Linked DNA regions of Homo sapiens. The protein of the gene in region 3 purifies or fractionates together with the protein of the main gene of each other region. This does not show direct contact. Each region holds a gene or a part of one and is shown on either strand. Other genes may lie near its edges.

Evidence for each region.
Region 1: the proteins of OLFM4 (region 3) and BMP7 purify together in Homo sapiens (affinity purification with mass spectrometry; 3 studies listed by BioGRID and IntAct, with this or other methods). This does not show direct contact.
Region 2: the proteins of OLFM4 (region 3) and INTS6 purify together in Homo sapiens (affinity purification with mass spectrometry; 3 studies listed by BioGRID and IntAct, with this or other methods). This does not show direct contact.
Region 4: the proteins of OLFM4 (region 3) and GNL3L purify together in Homo sapiens (affinity purification with mass spectrometry; 3 studies listed by BioGRID and IntAct, with this or other methods). This does not show direct contact.
Region 5: the proteins of OLFM4 (region 3) and RDH13 purify together in Homo sapiens (affinity purification with mass spectrometry; 2 studies listed by BioGRID and IntAct, with this or other methods). This does not show direct contact.
Region 6: the proteins of OLFM4 (region 3) and MTFR1L purify together in Homo sapiens (affinity purification with mass spectrometry; 3 studies listed by BioGRID and IntAct, with this or other methods). This does not show direct contact.
Region 7: the proteins of OLFM4 (region 3) and NID2 purify together in Homo sapiens (affinity purification with mass spectrometry; 3 studies listed by BioGRID and IntAct, with this or other methods). This does not show direct contact.

Annotation. Positions count from the first base shown.
Region 1 is NC_000020.11:57,179,337-57,183,845, reverse strand, and holds part of BMP7 (bone morphogenetic protein 7 preproprotein), read left to right. Parts: coding exon 1-124; intron 125-4,509. UniProt on the Homo sapiens protein: Growth factor of the TGF-beta superfamily that plays important role in various biological processes, including embryogenesis, hematopoiesis, neurogenesis and skeletal morphogenesis.
Region 2 is NC_000013.11:51,369,523-51,373,420, reverse strand, and holds part of INTS6 (integrator complex subunit 6), read left to right. Parts: intron 1-3,898. UniProt on the Homo sapiens protein: Component of the integrator complex, a multiprotein complex that terminates RNA polymerase II (Pol II) transcription in the promoter-proximal region of genes.
Region 3 is NC_000013.11:53,041,716-53,046,224, reverse strand, and holds part of OLFM4 (olfactomedin-4 precursor), read right to left. Parts: intron 4,316-4,509; coding exon 4,103-4,315; intron 3,121-4,102; coding exon 2,961-3,120; intron 1-2,960. UniProt on the Homo sapiens protein: May promote proliferation of pancreatic cancer cells by favoring the transition from the S to G2/M phase. In myeloid leukemic cell lines, inhibits cell growth and induces cell differentiation and apoptosis.
Region 4 is NC_000023.11:54,532,572-54,537,080, forward strand, and holds part of GNL3L (guanine nucleotide-binding protein-like 3-like protein), read left to right. Parts: coding exon 1-14; intron 15-4,509.
Region 5 is NC_000019.10:55,049,195-55,053,703, forward strand, and holds part of RDH13 (retinol dehydrogenase 13 isoform 1 precursor), read right to left. Parts: intron 1-4,509. UniProt on the Homo sapiens protein: Retinol dehydrogenase with a clear preference for NADP. Oxidizes all-trans-retinol, but seems to reduce all-trans-retinal with much higher efficiency. Has no activity toward steroids.
Region 6 is NC_000001.11:25,821,971-25,826,479, forward strand, and holds part of MTFR1L (mitochondrial fission regulator 1-like), read left to right. Parts: exon of another isoform or gene 1-1,048; 5' UTR 1,049-1,134; coding exon 1,135-1,158; exon of another isoform or gene 1,159-1,636; intron 1,637-1,673; coding exon 1,674-1,778; intron 1,779-4,331; coding exon 4,332-4,441; intron 4,442-4,509. UniProt on the Homo sapiens protein: Mitochondrial protein required for adaptation of miochondrial dynamics to metabolic changes. Regulates mitochondrial morphology at steady state and mediates AMPK-dependent stress-induced mitochondrial fragmentation via the control of OPA1 levels.
Region 7 is NC_000014.9:52,037,533-52,042,041, forward strand, and holds part of NID2 (nidogen-2 precursor), read right to left. Parts: intron 3,320-4,509; coding exon 3,119-3,319; intron 1,446-3,118; coding exon 1,215-1,445; intron 1-1,214.

The DNA.
Region 1 (4,509 bases), on a different chromosome or scaffold from region 3:
GCTTTCTTCAAGGCCACGGAGGTCCACTTCCGCAGCATCCGGTCCACGGGGAGCAAACAGCGCAGCCAGAACCGCTCCAAGACGCCCAAGAACCAGGAAGCCCTGCGGATGGCCAACGTGGCAGGTATGCTTAGGTGGGAGGGATCACAGACCCACCACAGGAACCCAGCAGGGCCCCGGCGGGACCCGGCAGGAGACTGACTCAAAATCCATTCAGGTGCTCACCAGATGGCTCTGGAACAAATATAGCAGGAAGAAAACCCCCAAATCCACCCCTACACAGGACATCTTAATTCTGTAAAAATAAACTAGCTTAGAAATGCAAGTAGCAAAACATTCGTATAACACAACACCAAGCATGTAGATATTTAAATAAACAGAACAATGGCGGCACTTGCAGCTACACAGAGATGAAGGAAAGACCCTGAAACGTGGATGGGAAGACCCCTGGGGGGGCTTACCCCATGGAAGGAGGGGGAGGAAGAAATGGGGAGGTAGAAGAGTTTGCTGTATCTTTATTTCATAAATGAAAAATATTTTAAATTCATGGCAAACTTTAATACTTGATAAATATTATATATATATACACACACACACATTTTTTTTTTTTTGAGATGAAGTCTCACTCTGTCACCCAGGCTGCAGTGCAGTGGTGCGATCTCGGCTTACTGCAACTTCTGCCTCTCAGATTCAAGTGATTCTTCAGCCTCAGCCTCCCGAGTAGCTGGGACTACAGGTGTGCACCACTGTGTCCAGCTAATTTTTGTATTTTTAGTAGAGACGGGGTTTCACCATGTCGGTCAGGCCGGTCTCAAACTCCTGACCTCAAGTGATCCACCTGCCTTGGCCTCCCAAAGTGCTGGGATTACAGGCGTGAGCCACTGCACCCGGCCAGGTGGTAGGTGTTTTAAGAATATATGATGTGCGGTACTTTTCAGTTTGTTTGAAATGTTTATTTACGATAGGTTTTAAAAAAATTAAAGATAATATTTTTATTGCAAGCAAATCAAACATTAACAGTAAATATAAGTAAAGTTAACGCATTGTGCGAAGGAGACTTCCAGGAGGTCGTGCTCTGCAGGTCCTCTAAAGCAGACAGCTTTTAGCCCATCATGTTGTGTGGTTCTTGAGGCTCTGAGGTAGATGGCCTCCCACTTCACAGAGGGGAAAACTGAGGCTCAAAGAGGGTAAGTCGTTTGTCTAAGGGCACAGTGTAGGTAACTGGCAGCCCTGGGATTGGGTCCCTGGGGTCTGGGTTGTCCCTTGCCCCAGGCCCTCTTCCCTGTTGGGCATTGCCGGGGCCATCTACCTGGCCTGGATGAGCTTCGGTGTCCCCAGCAATCCCATTGGGTGCTTTCTGACAATTCACCAGGCATTCGTGGAGCCCCCACAGGAGCCTGGCTTTGTCCCGGGCACTGGGGCTGTGGCTGGGGTGCAATCCCTTTCCCCATAGGCTGATTGGGAAACCGACATTGACAGCCTCTGGTGGCCTGGGGGTGCTGGGATCCCCAGAAGGTGCATTCTGGTTTTGAGCTTTGGAGGTGGGCTGGCCTGGAGCAGACCTGCTGGCACTGTGGGCATCTGTGGACAGCCCTCCCACACCCCTTGCCTGGCTCATGCCCCCTGCACATGCAGTGTCAAGTCCGCCAGAAGATGCATCGGGACTCCTCCCAGACTAAAACCAAAGCTTCGAATAATGAACCTCACAACAAACCATTTTCCAGTGGACTGGAGGGGTGACACCTCCCAGATCCAAGGAGCCCAGTTTGCTCCCCATCCCCAATCCCATCCCGCCGGCCAGGGGAGCTGCTGCCCGGGGGTGCCGTTTCTCTGGCTCTTCAGGAAGCCATTTGCAATGAGCAGGGCAATAGCCTCTCCAAGATGCCAGTGTCTTAATCTCTGGAACCCGTGAATGTGTCACCCTCCAGGGCAAAGGGGAGTTACGACTGCCCTTGGAATCACAGGTGCTAATCAGCTGGCCTTCCAATACGCGGGCTCTGTGTAGCAGGGTGGTCCCATCGGTCCTTATAGGAGAGAGCCTTTTTGAGCTGTGGTTGGAGCCATGTAAGCACAGAGCACAGAGGGGTGGAGATGAGTGGGGCCACCAGCCCTGGGATGTGGGTGGCCTGGAGAAGCTGCACAAGGCAAGGAAGGGATCCTCCCCTAGAGCCCCCAGTTGCATTTACCTGCTAAGACTGGTGTTGGACTTCAGAGCCACAGAGCTATAATCCGCTTGTATTGTTTTGATAATTTGCTTGGTTAATTTGTTAAAGCAGCGATAGGAAAGAATACATCTTTGTTGGCAAAGTGATTTTCTTTTTCTTTTTTCTTTTCTTTTTTTTTTTTTTTAGAGACAGGGTCTCACGCCATTGCCCAGGCTGGCGTGCAGTGGTGTGAGCATGGCTTACTGTAGCCTTGACCTCCTGGGCTCAAGCAATCCTCCTGCCTGAGCCTCCCAGGTAGCTGGGACTATAGATGGATGCCACCACACCTGGCTATTTTTTGTAGAGACAGGGCCTCCCTATATTGCCTAGGCTGGTGTCGAGCTCTTGGGCTCAAGCTATCCTTCCACTTTGGCCTCCCAAAGTACTGAGATTACAGGCATGAGCTACTGCCCCCAGCCTCCTCAGAGTGCTTCCCTCATCCTGCTAAGGAGCTGGGACACAACCATCTGGGGGCCGGCTCAGGAGTTGCAGCCTTCTTGGCTCCAGGTTGATCACAAGGCAGAAAAAGGTCTGAGGTGCAAACCTGCCCTGCCACCATGTGGGAAGCTATTAGCTGCTTATCACCTCCGGGGCCTGCGGTTGGTCCCAGGAAGCACCCAAGGGGAGCAAGGGGCTATTGAGAAAGGTCCTGGCGAGGGGATAGCAGCAGCCCCACCCCCAAATTAACCCTCTAGTGCCAATAGCTTCTTCCTCCTTACCTAGCCTAGCTTGAAATTTATGTTCATTTTACTTTTCAAGGGAGAAGGCAGGTCAGTGGGGTTGGTGGCCTTTTTAAGACAAGGCTTCCTGACCCCTGGCGGGTGTCCTGGGGCCCCCGGATGGACCTCAGTGGGTCTGTGTGGCCCAGAGTGTGTAGGGATTCCGTATATTTTCTTTTCTGACAGTGGATCCATTTTTCCAGGTTTCTCAAAGGGGTCTTTGATCTCCCAAGTCAAAAACCAACCAAATTCCTTCATTTGTATTCGAAGCCTCTTTTATGCTGGACTCTTGAAGGCTAGGATTCAATGTCGAACACCCACACAAAGGCTGCCCTTGGGGGTGTTAATTTAGGACAGGAAGGAGGGGGTTGCCATTCACATCCATACATAGTAACAGACCCAGAGTCAGGGTGGTGCCTAGGGAACGCAGCCCATCCCGAGGGCTGCAGACAACATTTCGTGGCGAGCGAGCTGAGAGCTCTGGGTCCAGTGGGTGCCCACGAGGCCAGGCTGGTCCGGAGAGGATGCTCTGGGCTGTGGGACCTGCAGGGGCAGAGGCCTGTGCTGTGGGGTTTCCTGGCGCCTTTGGGGAGTGGGGAGGAGGCTGTGGGGGCTGAAGCAGGGGAGGGGAGTGAGGGTGGGCGGGTCAGGCATTCTCTTGGGAGTCACGTCTTGAGTTTGAACTTCATGCCAAGCATGTTCAGAAGTCTTTGCAGAGATTCAAGCTGTGGTGTGGGGTGCAGGTGATAAGATCATTCTGGCTGCTCTAAGAAAGGTGAGGAACAGGGTGGGTGCCGAGGGGGTGCTCAGAGGCCGGAGACTCCTTAGAGGATGTGGCAGATCATCCAGGCAGGAAGTGTAGGCAAACTGCATCCCGGCAGAGACTTCCGTGTCTTGGAGCTCCATCGGGTGCACCTGGGTAATGAGGGGGAGAGGAACTAGGCATCGCGGGCTTAGAATTCACTCTGATTTTCCCCACCGCCTCCTCATCAAAGCCCCACCAAGTCTCCATTTACACAGCCCCCAGGACGGGGCTCTCACTGTTTCCCGTGGCAGAAATTCATTGCTGGGAACCTGCCTCCTTCCCGCGGATGGCTCGTGGCCCTGTTTGCAGCTCTTCTAAAACCTGCCTGGAAGTTAAGAAAAAAATAAAATAAAAATACCGAGGCCTGGGCCCCACCCTAGGCTTAGGCCAGAGTCCTTGAGTGTGAGTGTGTACGCCTGTGTGCCTGCCCCTTTGAATCGCTCGTCCCCCCGGTTTTGGGCTGGAGCCCTGCCGTGGAGCCACACAAGTTGAATCTCTCGGCAGCCCTGTGTGTGCTGGGGCGGGGGCACATGCTCCGGCACGCTACCCCACGCGGAGCTCGCTTTCCTGCCCGCCAGCCCCCTCCCCCGGGGCTTCACGTGCTCTTCAGATGGTGCGGTTTGGGGTTGAGAAACTGGGTCCCTGCACTTCCTTCTCCCCACCCACGTTTGGACCCAGCTCCCTGGTAAGCAGCCGCCTTTGCCAGATGACCCGTGGAGGCGGGAGCTGAGCCTAAGCACCAGTCCTGACTTGTCTGCGGCCCAAGCAGGGGGTTGAGGAG
Region 2 (3,898 bases), 1.7 Mb from region 3:
CATTTTATGAAGACCAGGTTGACTGTAATGTGTGTGGACTATTATCAGAGAGGAGCAAGAATGAATGTAGGGAAACCCTAATGAATTAATGGACTTATCAATTATATATAGTGGTCATACTTACAGCATGTTAACTGAAGGGAAACAAAATATTATATGACTCCTGATGGAAGTATCCAATACTGCCTTTGAAGTTGTCTTACCCAAAAAAAAAAAAACCAAACACCAAAATTGAACATCAATGTAATCAAACCAATTTATAGGAAATACAGGGGACAGAGAAACATGTGGGATACCGTTAGTAAAATCCAGATTGTAGAAAACTCTACAGGACAAAGAATCTGTTGGGTTTTTTTCCTGGAAAAAAAATATTTTTTCCAGAAAAATAAAAGGGGTACGGAAGGATTTTACAGATTCAAATGTAGTTTAAGAGATATATAAGCCAGTTGCAATGTATAGGCCTTAACTGTACTCAGAATCAAACAAAATCAAACTTTTCCACAAACAGAAAACATGTTGGAGAGTATGGACACTGACTGTATATTTGATGTTATTAAATAATTGTGCATGCACAGGAATCAGTTGGGAAACCCGGGGAACAGATGCTGCTGACCTGACAGTGGGGTTTCAAGAAGAATATGTATTTGAGAAATACCTGGACATACCACTGAAGGACTTGGTTACTGGTCAGATGTTGGGACCAGAGCAGGGGAGGAGTCAGACGTATGTCTTGAGAGACACTGGGTGGGTGGAAGAAGAAATGATAAATGAGTTTAGTTTAGAAGTGCATATTAGGTCATCAAGTGGAGATCCTAAGTTAGAAGATGAATATTGAGTTTGGGCTCAGGAGAAGAGGATTGGGCTAGAGGGGTAGTATGAGAGGCAGGTTACTGCCTATTGCACTGAATAAAATCTCACCAAGGCAAAAAGAAGAAAAAACGCTCAGAACAGAACCTTGAAAGTGCCAAAGTTAAGAGGAGAAAGCAGAAAAGGAGATTGAGAAGGAAGAATTTTAGAGCTAGGAGAAAATAGGGGAGAATTTAATGTCATGGAAGCTAAAGGGCAAGATAATTGAGTGGGTAGTTGTCCCAAATACTTTAAAAAAAAAAAAAAAACTGTTCAATCAAGAGAAATGGAAAGATTCTGTGGTCTTTGGCGATCTTAGCAAGAGCAGTTTCTGTGGAGTAAAGGGGCAGAGCCTAACAAGGGGTTATGGGAGGAGTGAGAGGTGAGAAAATGGAAACAATGGCTATGAGTATAAACGACCAGTTAAGTTTAGTTGTAAAAGGAAGATGGGAAAAGAGCATGGTATCTGGAAGAGTTCACAGGGTTTTGAAAATGGTGATTTTTCTTTGTTTTTAATATCAGAGATGCTTGAGCATGTTTCAGTGCTGGTGGTGGAACCAGTAAAGAGGGAGAGGTTGAAAATAAAAATGAGAAAAGGCATACTCAGCACAAAATTACTGAGAACGCAAGAGGGAATGGTCTAGAGCATAGATGAAAGAATGCTCCCTCCATTGACACTGAATGTGGGGGAAGTGGGGCGAGGGTGTGTGCAATTTAGTTAGAGGAAGGTAAAGGAAGTCCCTTAATCATGGCTTTGCTTTTCTTCCGAGCTCTGTGAGGTAGAAGGTGAAGTATACTGCTGAGACGGAAGGGGATATTGGGAAAGTCAGAGGTTTGAAGAGAGTGAGGGAGTTTAACAATCTCTGTGGGAGAGAGAGAGAAAAGATTGTGATAAGGTTGCTAGACAGTGCCTGGGATCCAAGTAGAGATGGTGATTGTGACCACTCTGTAGAGCTGGGCCCTATTTCTCCAGCAGCGCTCATGATTCCAAATGCAAGTCTGGGGCAAGCAGATAGTGAGTCAAGAGATGGGATTTTGCTTGGCAGATGTTATGGGAAGACAGTAGAATAAGAGAAATTCAGACATTAGTAAAAGTGATATATCACTTTTACTTACAGGGATATAAGCCTGATACAGAATTGGCTACTTAGAAGGGATATGGTTAATAGGAGGAAGAAAGTAGAGGAATTGCTAGAGTCAAAGTCTGGCTGAGTTAAGGAGCAGTAGCGGGAGTACTGTGAAGATGATACTCCTCCATCTCTGAATTTGTCTGGATGTGAAAGGCGAAGGTGTAAGTGTAAGTTCTTTAGAGAGAAGCTGGGGAATGGGGAGGCCAGGTTCTTAACAGGTGATCTGCTTAAACACTGAAGTCACCACAGCACTTCTCAGACTTGAATATGCATGTGAATCACCTGGGAGGTCTAGTTAAACTACAGATTCTCATTTATTCAGTCTGAGGCAGATGAGCATTTCTAGCAAGCTCTCTGTTGGTGGTACTGCTGCTTGTCCACACACCAGACTTCGAGTAGTAGTAAGAACCAAGAATGAAGTCAGAAGGGCTTTGGGGGTGGAATGTGCATGGCAGATGTGCTTGATAGCAATAACTGAAGCATACCTTGAGAATGACCCTGCTTGCAGACAACACCTGCATGCGGTTGGGAGTTCTGAGCTAGGGAATAGGGTGGCTAACCCAAAGATCCATTCCCTATCTATAAGGAACATCTGTGCCCCTAACCCATTGTGAAGTGAATGCAGGCCAGACAGGGGATTGAGGCCCTTTGTTTTGGGTTAAATGAAGGTTGCCAGGTGGAGGTTGTTAGGGGGAAGAGTGCTAAGTGAAAATACGATATAAACTGTATACTTTTTGCAAGCAGTTGCCATTTTTCTGCCCAGCCTGCTGCCACTGGGCCGTGCAGTTATCCTGTCCAGCCCACCACCATTGGACTGTATGTAAGGTGCTTCTCCTGCCTAGCTTGCCACCACTGGGCTTGCTCCCCTTTATGTAGCCCCCAACAAAACGCCTTGTCTTGTTTGCTGGCTCTGGGTCTCTTCTTTGGCTTCTTGAACTTGGTGCCATCCCCACTGGAGTTGATAGGGGCTCAGCACAACAGAAGGAAGGCTATGAACTGGGTGCCAGAGACAACAGTGGCTTACAGGCTTGTACCCTGGAGATTGGCCTAAGATAGTGATAAGGAGAGACAGCGTGAATGGCATGGTTGAGTCTCACAAGAGTGCAAGGGAGTAATTTTGCAATAGCACTAGGAAGTGAAGGAATCAGTGACTCCATGTCCTTTTATGCCTATGGAGATTGTGCAAGAGAAAGCAATTTCTACTTTTGGTCTGGAAAGGAGAGCAGTCTCCATACAGGAGAGCTGGGTTTCAGTTAAAGCATAAGTTGTTGTAGAGAATATTCAGTAAAGAGGAGTTTGCAAATCATGGAATCGAATTTAGGAGAGAGTCAGGAATTTGGGGGATTTGTGATGAGTGTATAGGGGAATATGGGTAAACTAAGTTTATAGTTTGGACAGGAAATGAGGACAGTAGAGATGAATTCAGCTGGGATCCTGGAGGTTGGTGAGCAATCAGAGAACTTAAAATTCAGCTGCTTTCTGTGGGGCAAGTCTAATAATCTGGTGTTAAGAGGAAGGCTTGCGAGCTTTCAGTTTTAGTAGTCTAATAAGCTGAAGTGGGCACCAGGTTGCTCTGCACTGGTAAATAAATGATGACTAGATTCTCTAGTTAGAAGGTATACTGTAAAACATTACCTGTTTGGTGGTATGTTCCCTGCAGAATTTGGAACAGTTAAAGGCAGAAATATAAGTGGAAAGTAAAAACTACCCAGTGTTTACTTTTGCCTCTAAATGATACCAGATGTATAAGGCATATGTGTGAGTTAGGGCTCTCTAAGGTAGAGATAGATGACCGTGATAATTTTGATCATAGATATTTCATTGAAGTATCAAGAACCTACTTGTTTCAATAAAATTGCTATAGAATAAACCAGAAAACTAAAAACTACTTGAAATTGGCTTTATTTTTTCCTCCAAGGGTA
Region 3 (4,509 bases):
CTCTCAACTGGGCAACTGAACTTTGTTTGAGCCAGGAGGAGAATATGATTGACTTATAAGAATTAGGCAATTAAAACAATCATAGTCATAAAATGATTAAGACTAAATTGACTCTGAAGTGTTGGATATATGCTGTTCAACATGTGGCTCTTCCCTAAGCTTGAGATTTTAGCAGGTCACCCCATTTCTTTCAGACCCCATTTAATCATCAGCTACTTACTGAGCATCACTATGGACCAGCACAGAACCTTGCATCCCCAAGCAAACTGGAGATCAACCCCTGAGCACCCGATCACATTTGGCCTATATACAGTCATTTAGATTCACAGGCAAAACAGAGACAGACTGAAGTTTTAAGGGAAAAAAGTTAATGAGTAGAAGGCCAATTATTTTAGATTAGAAAGTTCTATGAAATGAGGCAGAAAAAGGACGTTGTTTGTAGCAAAAACCAAATAGGAAGCATATTTTATTGAACCTGGGATACATTCACTTGTTCTAAGTTCAAGCTGACCACTGGGTCAGCAAACTGTAGCTATAAGGGAGGGGGCCCAGAGAGCGCAGAGTTACTTTAGAGCTGAGACTTGCATATAGTCTTTTTTATTCTGTGCAACTCTGCAGTGAAAAAAGCAGACAGGCCAGATTTTAAAGTCCCATAATAGAGAATAACTTTAATTAAAGTCTCCACAGGCTCACAAGTTTGTGGTGCTTGGGGATTTTCCAATTCTGCATTATCAACCAATCCAAACAGAAAGAGAGCAAGTGAAAGAAATTGATTTAAAAACATGACCAAAAGTCAGTTTAATATAAACATCATAAATATAATATGAACAAAGCTGGAAGAGAGCCAAGTGGCTTGGCAGGGATTCAGGTACAGCCAAGGTTGTGGGAAAGTGAGTAAAAATCTGGGTCCAATTTGCTTAAACAACACAGCTGGGCTAGGATGGATCACAGAAGTCTAAGTGTGAGGGCCTAGGGGAAAGTTCTGGGAAAAAAAAAATCCAACAAAAACAACCCAACAGGCTCACTTGTTTTCTTCCCTGGATACTAAGCAATGCATTTTCTCCCCACCGTTGTCCTTGGATTACTGCTGCCTGACACCTTCGGTCCTGAACTGACCAGGGAGCAAAGACCCTTGCCTTGCAGCTTCTGCTCTGTCATTAACTACTTGTGTGGCCTCAGGAAAAGCAGCGTTCTTACCATCCACGTCTTCTCCTCTGAGACAAGACGAGGCTAAGTTAGATGGCCCTGAATATTCCTTCATCTAAAATGTCCTCATTCTAAGGGATGCATAGAAAATTGTGCCAGAAAAATCTATTCCATGAGGAGGATTTGCAAGGGGTGTTGGGGAGCTCGTTCAGGGATTATCAGGAGTTGTCATTGCTTCAGCCTCTGCCTCAGTGAGTCCTCTGTGGTCCACCAGAAACAGCTCTCATTTGCTACATTTTTGCACCACTAATCCCAGACTAAATTTAGCCTTAGTTTATTACAGAGGACAGACCATGTTGTCTGCCCTAAACCTCCTATGCAGGATGCGAAATTTGAACAGTTGTTCAAATTTATGTCACCTCCTTTCTGGAGAAGTTGAAAGGCCATTTCATTCTGGGGCAGGATTCTAACCATTAGATGACACCTGTCATAGTAGGACACACTCCTATTTGCAGAGGGAGGAAAAAAATCCACCTGAAGAAGACCAAGAGGCTTATATCTATGGCTATACCTATTTAATAATTGAAGCCTTAAAAAATCAGTTACAATGACAATAATCCAGAAACACAGTCTAAAAGAAAGCAGGTGTGAGGATTGGAATTCATAAAAATAAAAGGATTGCATGATTTGATGAAAAGATACAGTCCCCACTCAGGCTAAGATGCTCAGGACCTGCAGAGAGAAGGTCCCTGTGTCATTGATATCTCTAAAGGATGGGGCTGAACACTGTGGCTGAGAGGCTTTAGTTTACCTGAAGGAATGCATTGCAGGGCACAGTAATCTGGCACTGCTTTTGTTTTGCTGCAAGGCTTTCGCTTCAATTATCAACATTATTAACAATATCCATTGCCAGCGTGTGAGTGCCGATCATAAGGTTCCGAGCTTCCCAAGCACTGACTCATTAATCCCCACAGCCACCCTGCAAGGCAGGCACTATTATTCTCCCATTTTACAAATGAGGATATTAAGGATCCTTTTTGCTGCAGCCACCTAGCTGAGAAGCTCAGGTCTTTGGAATTCTAAAGCTATGTTCTTGTACCCTACACTCCACTGCCTCTGTTCATGGGTATATTTGCAGAACACCCACCTCTGTGCTGTACTTAACCCCAATGAGAATTCATTAAAGACGAACATGCCACCCCTACTCCAAGAACTCACAATCCATGAGGAATGGCAAGACACACCCACAAGCACATGATATGTGGGGTCATTCCTTTAATCCTCACTGAATCTCAGGACACACAATATAGCAGGTGCTCAGCATGCATTTATAGGAAGAAAAAAGAAAAAATTAAAGAGAAACAGAAGGAGAGAGAGAAGATGGCAGCATCAAAGGCATAAACCCAGCTCATCAGATAAGTGAGCCAATCAGTCCTTAACTCCACAGGAAAGTGGATGCCACACACAGATTCCAGAGGCTTTCCCCTGAGGCCCCTGATAGGGCCTCCATCACCATAGAGATTTTTGTTCCCTGTTAGAAAATGCAAAGAGAATACGTGTAACTCGTGGATTTTGCTTTAAATCAACTCATTGTTTGTGCTCTTCCTCTTTGAAACCCAGAATATGATAGCATGTAGAATACTTGGGAGGAAGGGAATTTTAAAACATGGAAGAGAAAACTGAGAACTGAAAAAAAAAAAAAAAAAACAACCCACCTTCTTCTTTCACCATTGCAATCCCCAATCCCTTCCCCACCCCACTCACAGCTCCTTATGGGGTCTGGCACAAGTGGTTAAAAAAACTGGCATGCTTACCTGGAGTGGGAGGAGGGTGGACGACAGGGGTGTTTTGATCTTTAGAGGCCTCACACTCTTTCAGCTTGGTCTTCAGAGCCACGATTTCTCGGCGAATGGCAAGGACATTGTTTTTGTCTAGTGTCTCAAGCTTCTCTACCAAGAGAGTCATATTTCTTATCTAAGGAAATAAAAATTCAGAGTGACTTTATATTATGGTGCAATTTCTTTCATAAACATTCCAGGGCTGAATTTGTCATTTAGTGAAACATTGCCAGAGAATACACCAGAGATTCTTCTGAATGGTTTCATTTGGAAGAATACATTTTATGGTTTAGCATGAATGCCTGTCAGATCTCAGGCAGATGTGTGTGACAAGAAGAAAATGGCAAAGATTTTAATAGCTTTAATAATAGAGCCCAAGCTCATCCTCAGCATCCACAAATGTCCATTAAAGTTCATTTCTAATAACCTTCCCCTATAAACTTGTGTTTACTCATGTTGTATTATAATTAAGATTCTAATGAATGGTGAGGGCCAGAGAAAGCTTAAATTCTAAAATACGTAACTAGAATTCTCAATTATAGCCCATGTCATGACTGTGCTAGTAAATTTTTGTTGATATAAATTACCCAACCATAACGTTAATGTGATGGTCTTTATCCACAGATCTTAAAAGGCTTTACAGAAATATACAAGAAATTTCTTAAAGGGGGTTTCCAGTTTGCAGAGAAGGATTCCAGGTTATTCAAAAGGAGAAACAAACCTAGCAATTTTACCACAATCAGGTATATTGTGGATTTCTAGTTCCATGAGGATAAATCTAGAGCAGAGAAGACACCTCATATAGCTTGGCCATGAACCGTTGTTCAACTTTATGCCAGCTCCTTTTCAGAGAAGTTGAAAGGGCATTTTATTCTGGGGCAGGATTCTGACCATTAGACAACATCTGCTCCTAAGTCAGCACATTCCCAATGTGCTTAACTTACTATTCAAACACATGCCCTTATCCAAAACAGAACATAGTGATATGCCATGTGGCCATGAGACAGTAGAGAATTAGAAGTTGGAAGAGATAGTTTCACTTCCTGGTACTAGTACTTGCTTACAGTCACTGAAGGGAGTTTATTATTAATTTACCAAGAAGTGAGTTCACTCCTTACCTCCACCTCCAGCTGGTCAACAATTTCTGAGCTTCCACCAAAACTCTCCTTCAGCTGTATGACCAGTTTTTCCATCTCCTTCACTTCTACCTTGATCAGCTCGAAGTCCAGTTCAGTGTAAGAAATGGTATCCTTCTCCATGATGTCAATTCGGACAGTTAGGTTTAACAGTTTCTTTTCATACACACTAATTAATTGGACATATTCCCTCACCTGAAAGAAAATCAAAAGGTTCAAGCCAATTCCCTGAGTAGTATCACACCATCTTCTTCCACTACCGAGCCCTTGAGTTGAGAACTATTTGATTCTTGCCAATCATTGTGTTTTGTAAATAAATAGATCAAAAATACATTTAACTAGATTTTTAAAATCTATCCATATACAAAGAACTTATTACTCCAATTGAA
Region 4 (4,509 bases), on a different chromosome or scaffold from region 3:
GAAACTTAGACACAGTGAGTTTCCTTTACCACCCCTCCCAATCCTGTGCTTTTAATGAATATTCATAGAATTTCACAGCAACTTTTTGTTTTTTTGGTTTTTGTTTTGAGATGGAGTCTCGCTCTGTCACCTAGGCTGGAGTGCAGTGGTGCAATCTCAGTTCACTGCAACCTCCGCCTCCCGGTTTCAAGCATTTCCTGCCTCAGCCTACCGAGTAGCTGGGATTATAGGTGTGTGCCACCATGCCAGGCTACTTTTTGTATTTTTAGTAGAGACGGAGTTTCACCATGTTGGCCAGGCTGGTCTCGAACTCCTGACCGCAAGTCATCTGCCTACGTCGGCCTCCCAAAGTGCTGGGATTACAGGCATGAGCCACTGCGCCCAGCCTTCACAGCAACTTTTAAAAACTGTTGAATATGTTTCACATCACTCAGTCTGGATCTTTTTCATATGGTATCATTGCTGTCCTCCTGACTTCCTTGTAAGAGAATGTTTCCATTATGCCCCATTCTCAATTTACAGATGAGGAAACTGAAGCTTAGCAAGGTTAAGTGACTTGATCTGAGGTGAATTGCGATAAAAACATATCACACTGCCTGTAACCCCGACATGTCCTAACATTTTTCTCTATCAGTTGGTACCATAAGTTGTACTAGTGATTAAGAGCGTGCCTGTAATGCCAGCTGCTTGGGAGGCTGAGGCAGGAGAATCGCTTGAGCCTGGGAAGCAGAGGTTGTGGTGAGCCAAGATCATGCCACTGCACTCCAGTCTGGGCGACAGAGTGAGACGCTGTCTCAAAAAAAAAAAAAAGGAATAAAACAAAACAAAAAAAGAAAAGAAAATGATAACATTTGGATAGCACACTGGCACTGGGCAGGCTGGATGAGGATTGTGCTCTGTTTTCTGTGTGAATGCTGGCCCTGCCAGTGGACAGCTTGGTGGGAAAAAAATACATTTTTTATATAATCATAAAAATGTCATCAAGAATCATACTGTTAATACCAAAAGCAAATAATCATACTTTTATTTTATTTTTTATGTTTTTTTGAGATGGACTCTTGCTTTGTTACCAGTAGAGACGGGGTTTTGCCATGTTGGCCAGTCTGGTCTTGAACTCCTGACCTCAAGTGATCCGCCTGCCTTGGCCTCCCAAAGTGCTGGAATTGCAGGCGTGAACCACCATGCCCGACCAAATAATCATATTTATAAGTAACACAAGAAAGGTGGTAATTATACTTTATTTAGGAACATCTAATACTAGATGATAGAAATATTGATAGTGATGGAAAAGACAAAAATTACCTCGTTAAATAAAGTAGGATATATGCATACTTAAGAATTCTGGCTGTTTAAAAGATAAAGTAGTATCATATAGAAAGATTATATGGAAAAACTGTATTGTGTGGAAAGACTATTAGATGGAAAGATCTTCAGATTTGCTAACTGAAAGCAGGCATTTGCCACTATGCCCCACTAATTTTTTTTTTCAATAGAGATGAGGGTCTTTCTATGTTGTCCAGGCTGGGCTTGAACTGCTGAGCTCAAACAATCCTCCCATCTTGGCTTCCCAAAGTGCTGGGATTACAGGCGTGAGCTACCACACCTGGTTTTTTTTTTTTTTCTTTTTAACAAGAGGGAAAAATAGTCTCAGCTTGGCACTGGTGAGTCTGGAGGGCTACGTTCTCTACCTACTGACCCCCGGATAAACGTGTGGCAGTGAAAACAACAACCACCTTTTGAGAGGCCTGCAAGTGAAGCATTGTCCTTGGGAGAGCCAAGTATCAAGGCAGGAGCTTGGACAATTGATCCCAGGGAGAGGTTGTTAGGGGAGTGCTGATCACCCAGGTGGGAGTTTCAGAGAATGTTGTGGGAAATTTGATGCTACGGCAGAGGAAGGATGAGGGGAATGAAGTCAGTGGGTGTACAGGGACATCTGTGGGTGACAGTATGGGAGATGAGGGATTAGCGAATACAGAGATCTGCTTTTGAGTACTGATGAATTGGTGATTTTAGGCCTAGATGATATTGGTGGATGCATTGAGGCTCAGAGAGGTTTTAAAAAATTCTTCAAGGTCATATAGCTAGGTAGTTGTTGAGCCAGAGTAAGAATGTCTGCTGGTTATAAAATGGTAGCTGTTTTCTCTCTGGAGTTGTTGAAAAACCTATGAGCAGAGGCTCCTGAGTGCTGGGAGGGATGACTGACTGCACCCCCTTCTCCTTTTTCCCTCCCCCCTTCTCTTCTCCCCTCTGAAGCACATTCTTTTTCTCTCCAAGTGATGTGTTTTCTTTCACTGTGTGCTTGTATCCATTGCAGGCACTCAGTTTCCAGGGAAGTTAGGCAGATGGAAATTGTTGAGTGAAATGTCCAGACCTGGTTCATTCCAAACCTCACATTTTTTTTGTTGTTGTTGTTGCAACATGAGTACTTTAGAAGAAAGGAGACTGGTGGTCTGTTTCGTGTTTATTTAAACTGTGTTTATTTAAATTCGACCCATTCACATTTGTTATGAGACGTTTATGTCTGGTCAGATTTCTACCGTCTTATTTTTTATTTATTTATTTTTTGAGATGCAGTCTCGCCCTGTCACCCGGGCTGGAGTGCAATGGCGCGATCTCAGCTCACTGCAACCTCCGCCTCCTGGGTTCAAGCGATTCTCTTGCCTCAGCCTCCCGAGTAGTTGGGATTACAGGTGCCTGCCACCATGCCCAGCTAATTTTTGTATTTTTAGTGGAGACAGGGTTTCACCATGTTGGCCAGGCTGGTCTCGAACTCCTGACCTAGTGATCCGCCCACCTCAGCCTCCCAAAGTGCTGGGATTACAGGTGTGAGCCACCGTGCACGGCTCTCTACCATCTTATTTTATATTTATTATTTATTTTGTTTCCTCTTATTCCCTTATTTATGTTTTGCTAACTTGATGAAGTTTTTAAACAATCCTCCATCGGTAATTAAGTTATGTTGGTAATTGTATTCATATTTATATCAAACATAATTAATTCTGTATTTATCACTTTACCAAAGTTAAATAATGACTATTTTGTAACCTACCCTTTCAAAATGAAACCTTTAGCATGCTTTCATGCTTTTGCTTTTCCAACCCCCATTACTTGATTCCTGGATTTTATTGAAATAATTTGGTATTTCAGTTCTGAGCTATTTCCTTATGATATGCTTCTTCGATTTTAAGAATCCTTTTTTTGTTGTTTTTTTGAGACAGGGTCTCACTCTGTCGGCCAGGCTAGAGTGCAGGTGTGATCATGGCTCACCACAACCTCCGCCTCCTGGGCTCAAGTGATCTTCCTGCCTCAGCCTCCTGAGTAGCTGGGACAACAAACATGTGCCATCACACCTGGCTAATTTTTTTTTTTTTTTGAGACAAGAGTCTTGCTGTGTTGCCCAGGCTGGAGTGCAGTGGTGCGATCTTGGCTCACTGCAACCTCCACCTCCTGGGTTCAAGCAATTTTCCTGCCTCAGCCTCTCGAGTAGCTGGGATTACAGGTGCGTGCCAACACGCCCGGCTAATTTTTGTATTTTTAGTAGAGACGGGGTTTCACCATGTTGGGCAGGCTGGTCTCAAACTCCTGACCTCAAGTCAGGCATCCGGCTAATTTTTGTATTTTTAGTAGAGACGGGGTTTCACCATGTTGGGCAGGCTGGTCTCAAACTCCTAATTTTTGTATTTTTAGTAGAGATGGGGTTTCACCATGTTGGCCAGGCTGGTCTTGAACTTCTGACCTCAAGTGATCCACCCGCCTTGGCCTCCCAAAGTGCAGGGATTATAGCTGTGAGCCATCGCTCCTGGCCTCAGTGATAAGTTTTAGTAGATTTCCGTAGATTTCCTGCCCACCACTGTTTGTTTCCTTTAGCTTGGGATCTTTATTCTGATTTAATTTTTATTTTGCCAGTAGTTTTATCCAAAAGGAAACACAGGGCCAGGCGTGGTGGCTCATGCCTGTAATCCCAGCACTTTGGGAGGCCAAGGCGAGCCAATGACTTGAGGCCAGGAGTTTGAGACCAGCCTGGCCAACATGGCGAAACCCCGTCTCTACTAAAAATAAAAAAATTAGCCAGGCACAGTGGTGCACGCCTGTAATCCCAGCTACTCCAGAGGCTGAGGCAGGAGATTTCCTTGAACCTGGGAGGTGGAGGTTGTAGTGAGCTCAGGTGGCACCACTGCACTCCAGCCTGGGCAACAGAGCGAGACTTTGTCTCAAAAAAAAAAAAAAACAGAGAGAGAGAGGGAGGGAGGGAGGGAGAGACGAAAGAAAGGAAGGAAGGAAAGGAAAGAAAGGAAAGAAAGAAAGGCAAGTGGTAATCTTTGCTCACCTGAAAATGTCTTTTTCTTACTTTCACAAAGTAAGAGTGATCTGTTGGTTAGAATTTTATCTCTTTATCTTTAGAGTTCAGAAATTTCATCAGGATATGTCCAGGGTATGTCTTTTTGGTTGTTAATCTTTTTTTTTTTTTTTTTTGAGACAGGGTCTCTGTTGTCCAGGCTGGAGTGCAAT
Region 5 (4,509 bases), on a different chromosome or scaffold from region 3:
ATTGTTACAGCAGCTCCAGGACACTCACACGCCCTCCGCACCTCCATCTAAGCCTTGGGACTCCTTCCTGCCGGAGCCCCGAGGCCAAAAACGGGAGGTTACCGGTGGGAGCCCCGGCACCGCAGGCGTGGTTTCATTCCCAAACCTGCCACCTCACTCATACAAGCAACCAAAGGACACACAGATGGAGACTGCAGCCTCAGTTTCCTCAGCTGTAAAATGCGCTGAACCACAGGGCCTTCCTCCCTGTACCACTCAGCTCGGGTTCCGTAACAAAGTGCCACAGACAGGTGGTTTAAAACCTCACAGACCTGGCCGGGCACAGTGGCTCACGCCTGTAATCCCAGCACTTTGGGAGGCCGAGGTGGGCAGATCACCTGAGGTCAGGAGTTTGAGACCAGCCTGGCCAACATGGAGAAACCGCGTCTTTACTAAAAATACAAAATTAGCCAGGCGTGGTGGCATGCACCTGTAATCCCAGCTACTCAGGAGGCTGAGGCGGGAAAATCGCTTGAAACCAGGAGGCAGAGGGTGCAGTGAGCCGAGATCGCATCATTACACTCCATCCTGGGCAATAAAAGCAAAACTCCATCTCAAAAAAAAAAAAAAAAATCACAGTCCCAGAGGCTGGAAGTCCCAGATCAAGGTGTGGGCAGGGCTGGTTCCCTCTCAGGGCCCTCAGGGAGGATCCGCTCTGGTCTCTCTCCTTGGCTCACAGGTGACCATCTCCTCTCTCCCTCTTCCCTTCCTCTTCCCTTTGGAGCTGTCTCTTTTTTTTTTTTCATTTTTCCTTTTTTAATTTTAGATTTTTCAGACATGGTCTCACTATGTTGCCCAGGCTGGTCTCAAACTCTTGAACTCAAGCAATCCTCCTGCTTTGGCCTCCCAGAGTGCTGCAATTTCACTGCCCCCAGCCTATTTTTTTTTTTTTGGGGGGGGGAGATGGAGTTTCACTCTTGTCACCCAGGCTGGAGTGCAATGGTGCGATCTTGGCTCACTGCAACCTCTGCCTCCCAGGTTCAAACAATTCTCCTGCCTCAGCCTCCCAAGTAGCTGGACTACAGGCATCCACCACCACACCGGGTTAATTTTTTGTATCTTTAGTAGAGACGGGGCTTCACCATGTTGGCCAGGCTAGTCTCACACTCCTGACCTCGTGATCCACCTACCTCAGCCTCCCAAAGTGCTGGGACTGCAGGCGTGAGCCACCACACTCAGTCTACTTGGCCTATTTTTTATATTTCTTTGAGACAGGGTCTCCCTCTGACACCTGGGCTGGAGTACAGTGGCGCAATCACTGCTCACTGCAGCCTCAACCTCCCAGGCTCAAGCAGTCTTCTTGCTCAGCCTCCCAAGTAGCTGGGGCCACAGGCATGCGCCACCATGCCCAGCTAGCACGTCTGTTTCTGTGCGCAAATCTCCCCTTTTCATAAGGACACCAGTCACTGGATTAGGGCCCACCCTAATGACCTCATTTTCACTTCAGGACCTCTGTAAACACCCACCTCTAAATGAAGTCACATGCTGAGGGATGGGGGTTCAGGATCCCAACCTATCCTTGGGGGTGGAGGACACAATGGAATTCATAATGCTCCCGAAGTGGTTTTCGGCGGGGATCGTGAATTAGGTGTCCAGCGCGTAACACACAGACACCATCTGGTTCTCTGTGTGAGAAGGAGGGGGTTGCAGCACACCCGTCATGAATACCAGCTCTGGAGCAGGACAGACAGGTTCAAAGCCTGGCTCCACCCCGACCAGCTGCATGATCCTGGCCAAGTCACATCACTTCTCTGTGACTCAGTTTACTCCTTGTAAAAAAAAAAAAAAAAAAAGGATAATAACATCACCTGCCTGGTACAACTGTATACTTACTCATTCAGTAAGTATTTTCTAAGCACCTATTACTGGGCACTGGAAATACAGGGTGGACAGCACAGCCGAGGCCCCGTCCGTGTGGACCGGACATTCCAGTGCAGCTGAGAGCCACTTCCACTCGTGAGAGAATCTACCCGTGACAGAGCTGCGTGGAAGCTGACAGGAGGCCCCTCTCAGGAGGTGACGCAGAAACTGGGACCGGGAAAATGAGGCAGGGCCCACGTGCGGAGACCCAGGGAAGGGGGATGCAGGCAGCAGGCGCAGCACGGGTAAGGCCCAAAGGCGGGACAGGGAGACTCCACTCACAGCTGGGCGCCCAGGAGTGCCGCCAGCTTCTGGTGTTTTGTTTTGGTTTTTTTTCTTTTTTTTTTTGAGATGAAGTCTCACTCTGCCACCCAGGCTGGAGTGCAGTGGTGTGATCTTGGCCCATGGCCCACTGCAACCTCTACCGCCTGGGTTCAGGCGATTCTGCTGCCTCAGCCTCCCGAGTACTGGGATTACAGGTGCCCGCCACCGCACCCTGCTAATTTTTGCATTTTTAGTAGAGACGGGGTTTCACCATCTTGGTCAGGCTGGTCTTGAATTCTTCACCTCGTGATCCACCCGCCTCTGCCTCCCAAAGTGCAGGGATTACAGGTGTGAGCCACCGCGCCCAGCCTGTTTTTTTTTTTTTCTTTTTATGAGAGGGAAGCTCACTCAGTGGCCCAGGCTGGAGTGCAGTGGCGCGATCTCAGCTCACAGCAACCTCCGCCGCCAGGGCTCAAACGATCCTCCCACCTCAGCCTTCCACATAGCTGAACCACAGGCGCCCGACACCACAAGCAGCTACTTTTAAAATTTTTTGTAGAAATGGGGTTTGGCTATGTTGCTTAGGCTGGTCTCGAATTTCTGAGCTTAGGCAATTCGCCCACCTCGGCCTCCCAAAGTGCTGGGATTGCAGGCGTGGGCCACAGTGCCTGGCCTGTTGTTTTGTTTATCTGGGAACTGCCTCAACTTTTTTTTTTTTTTTTTTTTTTTGGACACAGGGTCTCACCCCGAGTGCAGTGGTACAATCAAAGCTCACTGCAGGCCGGGCGTGGTGGCTCACATCTGTAATCCCAGCACTTTGGGAGGCCGAGGCGGGCAGATCACCTGAGGTCAACCAGCCTGACCAACATGGTGAAACCCTGTCTCTACCTAAAACAAAAAAGTAGCCGGGCATGGTGGCAGGTGCCTGTAATCCCAGCTACTCAGGAGGCTGAGGCAGGAGAATTATTTGAAACCAGGAGATGGAGGTTGCAGCCTGACCAACAGGAAGAAACCCCGTCTCTACTAAAAATACAAAATTAGCCGGGCGTGGTGGCGCATGCCTGTAATCCCAGCTACTCGGGAGGCTGAGGCAGGAGAATCACTTGAACCCAGGAGGTGGAGGATGCCGTGAGCCAAGATCCCGTCATTGCACCAGCCTGGGCAACAAGAGCAAAACTCCGTCTTAAAAAAAAAAAAAAAAAATCCCTCACTGCAGCCTCAACCTCCCAGGCTCAAGCAATCCTCCCACCTCCACCTCCCAAGTAGTTGGGACTACAAGTGCACACCATCACGCCTGCCTCATTGTTTTTTATTTTTTTTTTGAGATGGAGTCTCACTCTGTCACCCAGGCTGGAGTGCAGTGGCGCCATCTCGGCTCACTGCAAGCTCCACCTCCCGGGTTCACGCCATTCTCCTGCCTCAGCCTCCCAAGTAGCTGGGTTACAGGTGCCCGCCACCACGCCCGGCTAATTTTTTTGTGTTTCTTAGTAGACACGGGGTTTCACCGTGTTGGCCAGGATGGTCTCGATCTCCTGACCTTGTGATCCGCCCGCCTCAGCCTCCCAAAGTGCTGGGATTACAGGCGTGAGCCTGCACGCCTGCCTGATTGTTTTGTATTTTTTGTAGAGATGAGGTCTTGCTATGTTGCCCAGGCTGATCTCAAACTCCCTGATAAACAAGGCTGTGGGTACCTGCTTCCTGGGGCTCTTTGCTTTGTGTTCTTTCTAGTCGGGAGCTGGGAAGAGCCACAGCTTCCAGCTTTGTCAGAGTGTCATCTCACAAACTGATCTTCCCAAAACTTCTGTCTCCCAAAGTGCCGGGATGACAGGCGTGAACCGCTGCACCTGGCCTGCCCCAGTGTGGTAGAATACACACCACATAAAATGGACGATCTTCACTATTTTTAAATCCACTGCTGTCTTTATTCCTGGCTGTTGATCTTAGGAAAACACCAAGAAGCTGGTACTTGATTTGCTAAAAAAGTCACAGACACAGCTTTACTTAATCCTCTAGAGAGGCTGGGCGTGGTGGCTCATGCCTGTAATCCCAGCACTTTGGGAGGCCGAGGTGGCTGGATCATGAGGTCAGGAGATCGAGACCATCCTGGCTAACACGGTGAAACCCCGTCTCTAGTAAAAAATATAAAAAATTAGCCGGGCGTGGTGGCAGGCGCCTGTAGTCCCCCGCCACTCGGGAGGCTGAGGCAGGAGAATGGCATGAACCCGGGAGGCGGAGCTTGGAGTGAGCCGAGATGTGCCACTGTCCTCCAGCCTGGGCGACAAAGCAAGATACCGTCTCAGAAAAAAAAAAAAACCCCTCTAGAGAATCCCAGAAAATAGAAGGAAT
Region 6 (4,509 bases), on a different chromosome or scaffold from region 3:
GGTGTTTGATGAACAAGTGAATGAACGAGCACACTGATTGCATCTGCTCACCATGCAAGGACTGCTGTGAAGAGCAGTCAGATGTCACCTCACCCATCTGTGTCATGTTTTAACAGTTCATTAAGCACTCAACCCCATTTCACTCATTGACCCTTAAGGTAGCCTCCAGTGGCAGCTTTTCCTGTCTCCTTTTTCCAGATGGAAAAACCAACATTCAGAAAAGTTAAATAACTTGCCTGTAGCTACAAAGCCAGAAGGTGGCTGAGCCAGGATAAACTTTTTTGGCTCTTTTTCTCTGTAGCTCATGAGACTGAGATTGGCATGAGCTGGTGTTCGTTCTCCTATTTTCTCTGATCTCTCCCTTTGCAAGGGCCCAGCAGTGCTTTTACATCTCATCTTCAAGAATGAATCCTGGGCTTGGATAGTACTTATAATTTGGCTAGATGAGCTTTGTAGCTACCAAGGATTCTATTTGCATCTTTAGAAGTTTTGCCTCAAGAAACCTGAGAGCCCAGGAAGGCTCTTGGGTTGGCCAAGCTCACTAGGCAAATCTTTTTTTTTTTTTTTTTTTTTTGAGACGGAGTCTCGCTCTGTCACCCAGGTTGGAGTGCAGTGGCGTGATCTCGGCTCACTGCAAGCTCTGCCTCCTGGGTTCACGCCATTCTCCTGCCTCAGCCTCCCAAGTAGCTGGTACTACAGGTGCCCGCCACCACACCTGGCTAATTTTTTGTATTTTTAGTAGAGACAGGGCTTCACTGTGTTAGCCAGGATGGTCTCGCTCTCCTGACCTCGTGATCCGCCCACCTCGGCCTCCCAAAGTGCTGGGATTACAGATGTGAGCCACTGCGCCTGGCCGCAGATCTTTAACAGAACCTTTAAGAGTCTGGACTTAGAGCTAAGTGTTGGGTGAGGGCAGCCTCTTGGGCTGGTTTTCTCCCCTGTGAAGTCATGGCTCTGCAGGGCCTGGTTTTTTGGGGCTTGTGTGGTGACCATTAAATCCCCACTGTGGGGGGTTGTTTCACAAGAGGGAAATCTGGTGCTCCTCCAGATGGCCTGATATGAAGGAGTCACGCCTCCCGCCTCCCGGAGCTGCCCAGTGGCTGCCTTGTCCTTCAAGTGCAGGAGCTGGTTCAAATGTCAGGAATGGAAGCCACTGTGGTAAGGGGCATTCCCAGGGCAGGGGTATGGTGGGGAAGGTTGGGTGCTGGGCCTGCTGAAGTACTGTAAAAGGTTCTGAGACTCTCCAGTTGAGCACTCCTTTCTCCAGAGGCCTGGAATTGGAGCAAGGCCACCGTTTCACTCCCTCCCCCTAAGAAGAACCAACTATGATCCTGGGGCACTTCAGGAGTCAGTGTATGTCTGCCTTTCTGTACAGAGGACGGGAAGGAAAGCCTGGATAATCTCTACACTCAGCTACTTCCTCTCCCCTTCCCTGACCCTCCCAACATTGACTGCCTTAGCAGCAGCAGGTATTCCCTTGGGTGGCTGGCCAGGGTGTAGGCTGGCAACTGGGGAACCTGCCCTCACTATAATTGAGAGTTGACTTGCCCCTAGAGAGTGCCCTGTCCCTAGGTTTGTGGAATTCAGTCTCCACAAACCTAGAGAGGAGAGGACAAGGACAGTAGTTGGATTCATTCTCTGGGGTTGTAGCTGTCTCCGTCTCTTTGCTCCAGACCATCCCAATCTGGCAAAACAAGCCACATGGGGCTGCTCGAAGTGTAGTAAGAAGAATTGGGACCAACCTACCCTTGAAGCCGTGTGCCCGGGCGTCCTTTGAGGTGAGTATGTTGGAAGGGCAGGAGAGTAGAGGCTCAGACAGTGCTGCTTCTGTGCCCCAAACCCCTTGGTACTGCCCAAGTAGGTTGTTTCCTGGTCACTTTTCATTCTGTTATGAAATATTTGTTAAATGCTTATAAGATATCCTGGTCACTGTGTCCTCCTGAGTGCATACAAACCTGTGACCACAAGGAACCTGACAGGTCCCCCACATGGGACACTGACTATTGTGATTTTTGAGTTGAACTCTGCTTTTCTTCACCAGCCCTAAGAATTGACCATGTAGCCAGTATTTTTATTTTATTATTTTTTGAGATGAGGTCTCCCTATGTTGCCCAGGCTAGGTCTTAAACTCCTGGGCTCAAGCAGTCCTCCTGCCTCAGCCTCCTATGTAGCTGGGATTACAGGCACAAGCCACCATGCCCAGCTCCACTATTTTTAGTGTTTCTCTGAGGCCATAATTCCTCAGCCTTCTCTTTTTGGCCAATCTGGGCATCCTTTACTGGGGTGCTTTGGTCTTACCTCTGTGTCTAGGGATCCTTTAGCACCCACTCAGCAGCAGAGATTCCTACCTGGCCCAGGTCTCTTGAGACCCCTTCTGTGGTAGAAAGCTAAGTAGCATTTATTAGTCCCAGCTGCCTCCCTCTAGGAACTAAATGGTTAAGCACCAGCCCCAAACTATATGGTTCAGATGTGTGCATTTGGAGAGCTGGGATACAAAAGAAATACTTGTGCTTTCTACCCACACAGAGGAGATAGAAATATGTGCATGAAAGGATGTGGGCCCAGGTAGAAACAGAAATGAAGGAGCCAAATCTGTATAAAAGATGCTAAGAAGCAGAGTCTGTAGGAACTGGATCTGGAATTAGAAGAGGTGTCAGGGTTGGTATTAGGGTCAGGAATGGAGTTGGAAGTGTCGCAGGGGTAGGGGGCAGGAAAAGCTGTCCCAGTATTCAGATTGCCAGCTATCCAGAATTGTCTAAAGATCCTGGGCAGGAACTGGTCCTAACTTGCCTCAGAAGCATCAGAAAAAAAAAAGGGAGACAGCTAGGGAGTGTGGCTCACTGCATAGAGGCCGTCCCCACACTTGGCTATACCCTCTTCAGTTCTTTGGCCAGATGCTGGGCAGAGACAATCAAGGGCACAGGCTCTCACAGAGCAGGAATGTATGTGAGCAGTATTGGTAATACTAGATAACATTTACTGAGCACATACTATGTGTCAGGCACTGTGCTGTACTTTATATTTGTTTACTCATTTAATTGCCAAGAGCAAAGGAGCATTCAGGGCTAATCAGGAAAACAAATGGAGGCTTCCCCCAAATGCCCTATTTTAGCACTAGTTCCTGGGTCACTGGAAGTTCTTCTCTGTGTGACCTTGGAGTATCACTTAACTCCTGTGAGTCCCAGGTTTCCTATCTAAATGCAGGAGCGATCAATCCTGGATCCATCTACCATACCAAATAATTTGTAGCAGAAACAGTTGAATCTTACTTGTGTGTAAATATGCATTTATTATTATTATTAAATTACCTTAAATATTATTTAAGGGACTCTTACCAATTTATTTTGAAAATTTAAGCATATGAAAATATTAAAATTATGAAAAGTAAAAGGAAAATAAATTACCTATAATTACATAGTAATAATACAATAACTATTAATGTCTTAGTGTAGTCCTCTTTTTCTAGATGGATGTTTTTTACTTTGTTGTAATCACAGTCAACATGACTGAATCCTAATTTTTCACTTTACTCAACATCTCTAGGTTGAGGAGCTATTTTAAGAAATCCTATTATGGTTCCTTTTGTATAATCATTTATTTTTATTTAAATCTAAATATATTCAAATTTTCAGGTTTGTTTAAAACAGCATTGCTGTAACAATGTAGATCTCAATTAGCTATACAGGATTATAAAAAGCTAGTCAGGAAAAATTTCCTATTGCTGTAACAGGTTGTGGATGACCTTGTACTTGTATTTTCACCAGAGGGCACAGTGGTTTTAGACAGTTGCCATCTCTACTAAAAGGTGACTCAGGCCTTTTCCACTGAAGACACAGAACTGTTTGTAATCCCATAGACTCTCATGTGTCTTGCCTGTTTTTGTTTTTGAATGTGGCTCTGTTGTCCACGCTAGAGTACAGTGGTGCAATCTCAGCTCACTGCAACCTCTGCCTCCCAGGTTCAAGCCATCTTCCCACCTCAGTCTCCTGAATAGCTGGGACTACAGGCGTATACCACCATACCCAGATAATTTTTGTATTTTTTGGTAGAGGCAGGGTTTTGCCATGTTGCCCAGGCTGATCTCAAACTCTTGGTCTCAAGCATTCTGCCTGCCTCGGCCTCCCAAATGCTGGGATTACAGGTGTGAGCCACCATGCCTGACTGTCATCTGGCCTCTGTTCAATGTTTTCGACCAGGAACCTTCTTCTGCCCCCTCTAGGAAGCCTTCCTGACACCCAGTGCCGGATTAGGTACCCCTCCTGTGTATTCTGCAGTTTCTGATTGGCTCATCATGGCATCTGTAAATGTTGATGACTTTTGCTTCTCCATAGACCCTGCCCAACATCTCTGACCTGTGTTTGAGAGATGTGCCCCCAGTCCCTACCCTGGCTGACATCGCCTGGATTGCTGCGGATGAAGAGGAGACATATGCCCGGGTCAGGTAGTTGAGGCAGTAGCTGGTCTGCTAAGGAATGGAGAACTTCCCAGAAGAGGTGGCAGGCAGCAAGG
Region 7 (4,509 bases), on a different chromosome or scaffold from region 3:
CTTACGCCAGGACCACACTGTCTTGATTACTCTAGATTTCGAGTTTGAGAAATACAAGTCTGACTTTATTCTTTTCCAAGATTGTTTTGGCTATTCTGTGTTCTTTGAATTTCCATATAAATTCTAGAATCAGCTTGCCAATTTCTTCAAAGAGCCAGCTGAGATTCTGATAGGGATTATGTTGAATTAATAGATCAATTTGGGAAGTATTCACATCTTAACAGTATTAAGTCTTCCAATCCATGAATGTGGAACATCTTCCCATTTAACTGGGTCTTAAATTTTTTTCCAAAAATGTTTTGTGGGATGCAATGTACAAGTACTGCACTTCTTTTTAAAAATTTATCTCTTTTTGAAACAATTTCTTAATCTTTAGTTTGCTCATTGCTACTATAGAGAAATACAATTTGGTGTACTGATCTTGCATATCTTATAACATTGCGAACTTGTTCTTTAGTTCTAATAGTGTTTTAGTGAATTCCTGAGATTTTCTACACAAAATGTCATCTGAGACTAATTTTACTTTGTCCTTTTCCAATTTAGATGGCTTTTATTTTGTGTTCTTGCCTAATCACCCTGGCTAGAAATTCTAGTACTGAATTGAATAAAAGTGGCAACAGCAGACATCCTTGTCTTGTTCCTAAGCTTCAGGGAAAAGCATCCAGTCTTTCACCATTAAGTATAATGTTCTGGGAATCATGGAGGGGGAGGTTATACATCAAGTTCTATGATGTTTGGTTTTTCCAGATACTAGCTCTTTGCTCCACCTTAGTTTTGGATGAAATTCTTCTCATCTGTTTTAGCTAAAATGTCACTTTCTTGGGGACATCTTTTCTGAATCTTCAAACTAGACTCACAGTGCCCTGCTCTCATCACACTTGTAACAAATACTTGTCAGCATCACTCTCCCTCCTAATTCCAGTCTGCCTTGTTCACAGGTATATTCCTGATTGGCACGCACAGTTGGGTATTGCTATAAACCAGCTTCACATACTATGCTCTATTTCCTGACTTTGGCAGGGACACTGTTCCCTGCCCTAAAACTCTTTTCTGCCTCTGTTTCCAACTCAAGGGCAAGGATCTGCTCTATTCATCCTTATACCTAGCACATAACACAGCATGGCACTAGGTAACCCTTAGTAACCTCTGTGAATCATTCTAACTCTACTTAAAAGGATGTCATTTTTACCCAACAACAAAAAAGGAAACCTTACCTTTGACCGGGCCAATTTGATTGGTCACAGCAAATCTAAGCACTCTTTCTTCGTCATTATACAAGGCAAAGACCCGGTCCACGTTCAGCTGCTGGGTGGTGGGGAAGGACGGGTGTCTGGGGGCGTGCCTGCACACCTGGTAAGTGATGTTCTGGTGGATGCGGTAGGACCATGTTTGGTTGATTGCACCAAAAGTCAGAGAGTAGTCTCTGGAACTTGTAGAGGTCACAGCTGCAACAAACACAGTGGTAATTTTTTAAAAATATTAAATACAGAGATTTTCATGTGAGGTGGATTTTTCTGCAGTTTTTTTCATCTAATTCTTGGAGTGTGTTCCCTTGGGAACCTCCTGAGTTTATATGAAAAAATGTGTAAGGAAATCCCAAAAACCTGAGTGGATGCAAAGCCACAGTGCTGAGAGGGAGAAGGCACTACAATTGTCCATGTTATTATACACAAAGAATAAGTGTTACTAAGGGCCAGCCATGCCAACAGTGCTCTCTACATACTGCCTCATTTATTCCTCACAACAGCCTGGTGAGGTGGGCACTAAATCATGTGATCAGAGGCTCACAAAGGTTAAGTAGCCTAAGATGCAATGCTGCCACATGGTAGAGCTGGAACTGAAACTCACATTGGTTTGACTCTACACCCTAAATTTTAAACCAATCCATCTTCTACATTTCACAGAAGTGACGACTTCCAACACCTCGCACTTCAGTAAATCTGAAGGATTCCAGAGAAGGGAAAGGGTTGTCTCTCACCATCTGAGTCTAGGAGTCAAGCTCAGGTCAGTGATCCGGACACTGACCATTTTGTTCACAGCCCAGGTCTCTGCTTCCCCTTGTCTTCCCTACATCTCCTGCCAGGCTGCCAGCTCTCAGCATAGGAGCAGCAGGGGTCAGAGGAAAGGCACAACTCAATCCGGATTGCTGTGCTGCACAACAGCAGCTGTGATGGAGGCAGCATCCTGTGCGCAGGTAGTACTTTCACAGAACACATCACGCTTCGCACACATTGATCACATAATATAGAAAAAGCATTTTTAGTTCCATGTGAAAGATGAGAAAATACATTCTCAGATATTAAGAGGCCTTTCCCTATAGATATTAAATGGCAAGTCCAGGATATAAATTCTTATCTTTTGACTCCAAATCTAGCATTAGTTTTATAATAAATTATAGCATCTCTGTGTTTTTTGGTTTTGTTTTTGAGATGGAGTCTTGCTTTGTCGCCCAGGCTGGAGTACAATGGCACAATCTCGGCTCACTGCAACCTCCACTTCCCAGGTTCAGATGATTCTCCTGCCTCAGCCTCCCAAGTAGCTGGGATCGCAGGAGCGTGCCACCACACCCTGCTAATTTTTGTATTTTTAGTAGAAACAGGTTTTCACCATGTTGGCCAGGCTGGTCTTGAACTCCTGACCTCAGGTGATCCACCCACCTTGGCCTCCCAAAGTGGTGGGATTACAGGCATGAGCCATTGCACCTGGCCTCTTTCTGTGATTTTTTTTTTTTTTAAAGCAGCCTGAACTCATCAGCTGAAACAAGGTTGAGATAAATATAAATTCCAATAATCACTATTTTTCCATGTTGCAGAAAGTAGGATGGTTAAAAACTGTATATAATTATACCATCCCTACCCACCCCATGGACAATGTTGCTATTGATTTTATTATTTGAAAATACTATGTAGGGATATAGATATTCTTATGTATAGCAGCCATTCTGCTCACTTACACGATATATTTCATGGTAACAATAAGAGTAATAACATAATAGAGCTCATTTTATGTTCCATGCACTGTTCTAAGGACATGCCATGTAAGTCATTTAAGCCTTGTATCTATCTTGTGAGATGGGCATAATCCCCATTTTACAGATGTGAAGACTGGTTATACATACTGGAGTCGGAGTAGTGGTACAGCTCCTTGTAGGGAGAGATGTGGGCTGTGAAATTTGCTGAGACGTAAGGCACCTGGCCTTGAATGTTGGTCTTAATGCTCAGGTAGTTCTCTGGGTCAAGTCCCTCAGCAGTTTGAGTGATACGAACCGTCTCCTCTCCCGGGTAGAATGTAACTTCCATGTCATGGGTAAAGGCAGCACCTGGAGATGAAAAACATTCAGCACAGGGATGAAAAGAGGTCTTGCTTAAACAGTTACCAGTATATACTGCCCGCTCCCAATTTCTACTGCTGTTGGAGATCGTGCCTAAGGAGATTATCTGATATCTGAGAGTAAGCACTATCAGCTGTTGATTCCATAAGTTCCCAAACTTTTCCATTGAAGAATATGGTTTCATCCTGCCTTACCTCACCCAGCTTCTCTTTGAACAAGCTTGTATTCTGTGAGAAATACTCTTGGGAACGTCCTTGACTTTTCTCTAAGGTTGCTAGACTTAGCAAAAAACAAACAAACAAATAAACCTAACAACAAAAAAACAAAAACAAATAAACTACCACCTAAGACATTCAGGGTTTTGTTTGAATTTCAGATAAGTATGTCTCATGAAATATGTGGGTAATACTTATACTAGAAAATTGTTTATCTGAAATACAAATTTATCCAGGTGTGCCATTTTTTATCTACTTTTGACCCAAGGGCTTTATTCAAATTTTGATTAAAGCAAGAACCTATTAACAGCTACCGAGCTCTGCAGTTAAAGATGGAGAAAGAACTTCTCACAAAACTATTTTTAATGCAATAAAGATAAAACCTCTAGCAAACAAGTTTTCAGGTTGGAAGGTGAGAATCCAAAAAGTATCTTCTAAATCCTTGTTGTCAACGGGTGGCCTTTCCAGCAACACTGGTACCTCACCTCCTAGCTTGGTAGAAAAGCAAAATCACGGACCCCACCCCAGGCCTGCTGAACCAGAATTTACATTTTGACAAGACCTCCAAGTGATGTGTGTGCAGGTTCAAGTCTGGGGTGCACCGGCCTATACTATTATAGGTTGTGGAGCTGGGAGGAGAAGAGCACCCCTTCCCCATGAAGTAAAATCATCCCCAGGTGCCCCAAGTACCATTTTTGCATTTGACAGATCTGTGCATAATTTAAAAAGCCTGACAAATATGCTGCAACAAATTGGGGTAAGAGGACACAAATGTTCTGAATGGAATCATCCTGTTTCTCAGAACAGCTGGGAGAACATTTAGACGAAATCACTGCCTTTCAAAAATCAGTGATGTGAGGTCAAACCATTCCCAACAACCTGTGGCCAGAAAACTACACACATGTGGCTCTAGTACATTAAACAAGTGATTCCTCTGTCACTGCGTAAAGGCCTAAAGACAGT